Regions from separate parts of the Homo sapiens genome. Here region 2 is linked to region 1. The links come from fine-mapping of genetic effects on gene expression. A gene starts in region 1. The other region holds a variant in brackets. All regions are shown on one strand. Distances are from middle to middle. Region 1 holds the start of ANO4 (anoctamin 4). Region 2 has its middle 77 kb from the start of ANO4.

What was found. PIP is the estimated chance that this variant, and not a neighbour inherited with it, causes the effect.
Region 2: its variant is fine-mapped to the expression of ANO4 in fibroblasts (GTEx, PIP above 0.99). The same link has a PIP of 0.9 or more in testis.

What each region holds. Positions count from the first base shown.
Region 1 is chr12:100,793,262-100,796,176 of GRCh38, reverse strand. It overlaps ANO4 (anoctamin 4), which reads right to left and starts at 1,401. Exons shown (of 28, transcript NM_001286615.2): 1 at 1,150-1,401.
Region 2 is chr12:100,716,702-100,719,616 of GRCh38, reverse strand. It overlaps a transcript of ANO4 not described here. Among named protein-coding and RNA genes, the nearest start is that of ANO4, 77 kb to the left of the region's middle. The variant G/C (reference allele first, on the strand shown) is at 1,214.

The DNA of each region.
Region 1 (2,915 bases):
CCTACACAAATAAGATAACCCACCTCCGGTCCAAGACTTGAAAATAACTAAATAGAATTACAACTGCGAAGCTATTCTTTGGAATGATGCTTTGACCAAAATAGTTCGACACACCTGCTACCAAAAAAAAAAAAAAAAAATCCCTGTTAAGAGAGACTCCTGCAACGCACAGGAGTGAAACTAATAAAATGTTCTTGGTTTCCTTTGGGCGTCAAGAAGCTGCCAGTAATAGACTTGAAGTTGTGATGCTCTTTGCAGCAAACCTCAGGAGACCAGGTGAAAAATTAGAGCACTATTGTAAGAGTAATGTCCCTGGAATAAACAATCTGCCACATCCATAGTCTTCGTCAGAAACCTGCTTATGTTCTCCTAGAAAAGTCTAACCATTCTAATAACCTCAAAGTATTTTATCTCCTAGCAGGAGGACAAAACTATGTTGTCAACTCAAAAATGTTCCTGTCATCACTGCCCTACCACTCTCTGAAGAGCCTGTAAAATATGGTTTGCAGAACTGGGTACCCTGAGACTCAGAAGGGAAAGAAGCAATGAGGTCATGCAGTCTACTCCGTCTGCCAGCTCAGGATTCCTCCTGCTGAGAATGTTCCTGCCCAAGTTGTAAACCCCACAAGATATAGGGTCATCCCAGACCCACACGGGCAGGTGCAGAAAACACAGCTGCCCACAGCAGACTCAACATAACTCACACGTGTGTGCTCATCTTTATCCACAAAGATGGAAGAGTTTGCTATGTGGGCAGGTCACCCCCGGCCCTTCTGATCCTGAGTGAGTGCCCCTGGCACACTGAGGATTCATCCTGCCCAAATTTGTCAGTCATCCTCCACAGATTCCCTGCACGCTGCTGCAGTTTACCATCGTGAACACATTTCCCCGGCTGCTGCTTCAAGGACAAAGACAGAGCACTTATATTCGTATCACAGCAGAAGAGCTCACGTTTATGGAAAAAAGATAAAAAGACAAACACTCCAGGCAAATGACCCCTGGCATTTTTGAAGCTGGATCATCCCAGACAAGATCCATGAAAACAGAGGAAATGCAGAAGGAAGGTCACTAAGCTTAGCTGGGAAGAGGGGGAACGAACGGTTCAGTTCACTGCAGCAACAGAGCAGCTCATTCAACGTAAGCACTTACCATAAAAATAGAAAGAGTCAACAGAAGGAGAAGGGATCCTTCCTCAGTGCCTTGGTGTCTTCGGCAGAAAGAAATCCACTGTGAACCTCCAGGCTCCAGTCGGGAGGAGGCCAGCAAAGTGATGACAGGCAATAAAACCACCACACACAAGTCCTTTTCAGCCTCCCCTCGGGCCGTATGCAGTTGTTTGTGCTGTAAAAACCCTGAGAAGTCTGGAACAGGACTCTCCGGAGAGCGAGCCGGAGTGAAAGCAGCCTGGTGGATTTCACCACCGTCTCAGAGCATCACGCCCAGGACTGGTCCTCCCCCTCCCCAGGTGCAGGGGAGGCATGGTCGGGGGAGGGTGGGCACTAGGCTGGGCTAGGAAAGGCGAGAAGAGGGATGAAAAGGAGTCTCTTTAGAGTGGAAGGAACTGCCGGAGAGAACATCAGTATTCCATATCAGTTATTGCCAGCGACCAATCAGCCCAGCCAGGGGGCCGTGTCAGTGTGACAAGAGAGCAGCAGATGACAGCCAGTTCTGAGAGCGGCAGGACAACCCCCTGCCTGGAAAAGAAATTTGGGAGGATTGGCAACTTATCCTCTCCACTGCTGCTGTTAATGTTTGCTTGTATTTAACAAAGATCTAAAGCCCCATAGTTACACTAGCCATGCAGGAAGTTTTTGAGGCATCCCACAGCATCTCTGCAAGAAGCCAGACTTGAAGTCCCCTAAATGATGTCTGATGGCATGTCACAGTCCAGACAGCCCTACTGATGTGCCTTCAAGGGGTCATCATGAGTACAGTAATGGCGCTTTGGACCTAAGCTTCTTTATGCCCAAAGTGCAGGATAAGATGACCAGTGACCCGGCTTTCTATTTCAGAAGTGAAAAATTTAAGACAGAGAAGGGTCAAAGGTCTCTCCAGGAATTTGACTGTCAATCTTCATTAGTTTTCTTGTATAATATAGGTATAGAAATATTGTTAGAGGTGAGCTTCTGAAGATAGTTAACATGTCCCTTTTAGAGCTCTTAAATCACCTATAAGACAAAATATGTGTTTGGGATAAACAATAATAACAATTCATAAACACACTGAAAATTGAGAAATTCTGACTTACACTAACAGAAGGAGCAAAGGAGCAAATCTCTTGGTGATAAATGAAGGATGCGTGGAGGACTCTAAACTTTTCCTACTTCCCTTTTCCCCTATTCTAATATTGAACTTATAAACTTTGTCCATATATATTAATTAATTTGTATTTGGTTGTGATGATTACATTATATAGGGATGTAGTTTCTGAAGTTAAATGCCAGTTTAATTGGACTCCACAGTAAAACTTCAGAACTTTTTGTAAGATGGGGAGATTGTCTTGGGCCACCTTTTTATCACTGCAGAAAAGATAACTCCCTTTAGTCAGTCAAGAGTTAACAGGAATATACAAATGCCCTCGGGTTTTGTTTTCTGTTTTTTTTTTCCAGGTGACTTACATGATGTAGAGTTTTTAATTTTAGTTGTCTGTTTTTACCTAGAAGTTGGAATACCATTTGCACATTTTGCTGTGATCTCTACCCGTAGGCAAGCTGACTTTGGGGAGCCTGAATACCACAGCTTAAAAGGAAGGGCTGAGCTCCAAGGAAGCAGATAACTCAGCACCAAAATGAGTCACAGCAGAAGGCCATAAAAAATGTTCCACATCAAAGATGAACATAATAAAGTGAAATTTTTTAAACGAAGAAGAAAGGATAGTTTGCCAGGGAAGTCCTTGTAAATTATATAAGGAAAAC
Region 2 (2,915 bases), 77 kb after region 1:
TTTATTAAATCAGTCAATTAAACACAAAAATTGAACCCTATAAATTCCAGGCAAAAAGTTTAGATCATCCCCCATCATGATGCCTAAACCCAAATCCAACAGAATTGACAGGGGACATTTTTTACAAGGAATTCAATTGTCAAAGAGAAGATTTGCGGAGGGTTCCAGGGCTGGACCAAGCTCTCATCAGATAATGATCTCAATAGTATCCAGTGGGTGAAGAATGTATTAAATGTGCTCAATGTTTTTCTCCTTAACTTGTTCACTAGGTTGAAAACCCTGATGGACTAATTTATTCTGTCATGGTTTAGCTCACACTGCTACAGATCTAAGAATTAACGTGGAATTTGTGGCCAAGTATATGCATCATTTTAGGGATGGATGCAGGAGGAGAATGTGTCAAGCAGAAATTCTAATTGATATTTTTATTGAAATATGCTTCAGTTCTCTTTAAGGGTCTAATGAGAAACCTGTGTAATTCTTAATCACCAAAAACAAAGATCTGCCACCTTTTTCCTTTAATTACTGAAATATACTTCTTTTCAAAATGATTTCACTTATTCTGACTTCATTTTCTCCACCTGGGTGCTCAATTAAGCTTTTAAAGCTTCTAGAAACGTACAGAACTGATCATTACGTAAACCTATTACTGACAGTATCCATGGGGCAGCATACAAAATCTAAAATGATGTAAAAAAACAGAAGTTAGATCCCTCTGATAGGAAAAGGTGTAAAAATAGATGTTTTGCCAATGAATATGCCTAAAATGCCATCAGCATATTGAATTATCCCCAGATGGTAACCCAGGAACCACAATGTTGAGTGTTAAATGTGCGTGCAGGTAAGAACAACTTAAATCCCAGCAAAAATGTTCTGAGCACGGGGGAAGGGGGTTGGAGGAAAGAAAAAACAGGCCACCAGACTGAAATTTGTAATCTGCTCACAATTTGTTACTGGTTCCCAGGCATCAATTGCAAACCCTCTGAGCCACCTAAATGATCATTTTAAACAATTTAAATCCAGAGAAAGAGACTGACCCTGTTAACCTTGGTAAAATGAGCAGGGGACATCACTGGCCTAGAGAATGAAGATTCCACACCAAAGAATAGTAATTTCCGTCCCACCCATCCCAGGCTTTGAGATGTCCCTGCAGAACATTCCCCATCAATTGCTCACAGCTTTCCCCTTTAAAATGCCAAATCTAGATCTTATC[G/C]CAACAACTGACTGCAAGCAAGAGGAAGGGAGGGAGGTCTACTTGAGTTTCTGCTTCCTATAACCAAGTCTCAGCAGTATTTCTGATAAAGGGCTAAAGAGAATTGCTTTATCCACACAAGCAAGAACGTTGATAAGAAGCCTTGCTGGCTTCCCCAGCGCGCTAGGATTTCTAGCTGAGCCTGAAACCTTCACACAGTGATTTTGTTTTCCTTCAGAACCATGCAATACCACACATGTATATATGTATATGTCTATTCATATATATTTATTTAACAAAACAATGGGCAGGGGAACGATGAATGCCTTCCTTTTTCATAAACTTTTATTTCCAAACTGATTTCTTTTTTTGCATTAAAAACATGTTACAGTGCATATTATTTTAACTCCACAGCATCTGTCAGAGAGATGTTCTCATCTCTCTGATTTACAGACGGAGAAATGCAGAGGCTGAAAAGTTTAAATAACTTGCCCAAGGTCAGTCAGGGACAAGATAAGCGCTGGCTGAACGCACATCTCCCAACTCCAAGCCTCACCCCGCTAGAGGAGGACTTAACACCCGCGTCCCTTCCCCTGAGTGGTCGGAAGCGAGGGGAATGTTTCTAGAGTCCCGAAGCTCCCAGATCCTCCCAAATTTTGAAGCGTTTTTCCCGCAGACACCCGGTTCCCGGGTTACCCGCGGCCCGAAACCCCGCGGAACATCGGCCCCTCAGGAGCGGCGCGCACGGCCGCCGTCTCCCTCCCTTCCAGACCCCTCCGCAGAGGCGAACCCCGAAGTTTCCCCGGGTGTTTCGACGGCTCCCTGGGCCCCTCCCTTCCGCCCCGCCGCCCCAGGAACCCGCGACGGCCCCAGTTACCGTATGCGGTGAGGGAGGCCATCCTGGCCCGCGTCCTGCCCAGACTGGCCAGGGCGTCGGCTAGAGCGGCCCCCTGCGCGCTGCGCCCCTGGACGGCCCGGCCCGGCGAGTGCATGCGCTTGGCTCTAGCGGCGCCCGGGCGCTCCGCGGCTGAGCACGCCCAGTCAGCGCGCCGCGCTCGCCCCTAGAGCTGCCGGCGCGCGGGGGCCCCCGGCCGGGCTGCGCCGCGAGAGCGGCAGGAGAGAGGGCGTAGACCGGCAGCCGCGCTCCGGGTCCCCGCGGGGATTGAACCAGCCGCGGAGGACGCGCGGCCGGGAGAGGGGAGGGGCGAAGCTGGAGGTGGGAGGTGCCCGGCAGAGGCGCGCCGCGGATTTGGCCCAGCGCAGCCGGCGTCGGGCGGGATCCCCGGTGGGTTCACGCCAAAAGGGGTGGCAGGGATGTCGTGGCAAGGGTCGGGGAGTCCCAGGCGCGCCACAGCCTCTCGGGACGGTCTCCTTTCCTAGGGAAGCTCCACTGGAGAGCGCGCCGGGGAACACATGGGGTGGGTCTGGCCGCCCGTGACTCTGGGCGCGATTCCCAGCCCAGGGGACAGTCTGGAGAAGGCTTTGCCTGTGAGACCAAAGCACAGGGGAGAGTAGCAACCTTCTCCTGCGCACTTCTATTAGTGAAGTCGGTGACTACTAAGTACCGAACTCTGACCCCAACAGTTCAGACCTGTCCCAGTACATCATCTTATCATCTCTGTTTGTGTTTCTGTCTTACCACGAGGCGCTCACCGGTGTCCTATTCCTGCCCAGCATCTGATGAGGGCGCGAGCTCACACAAGGTTGAGTGATGGAATGTCCG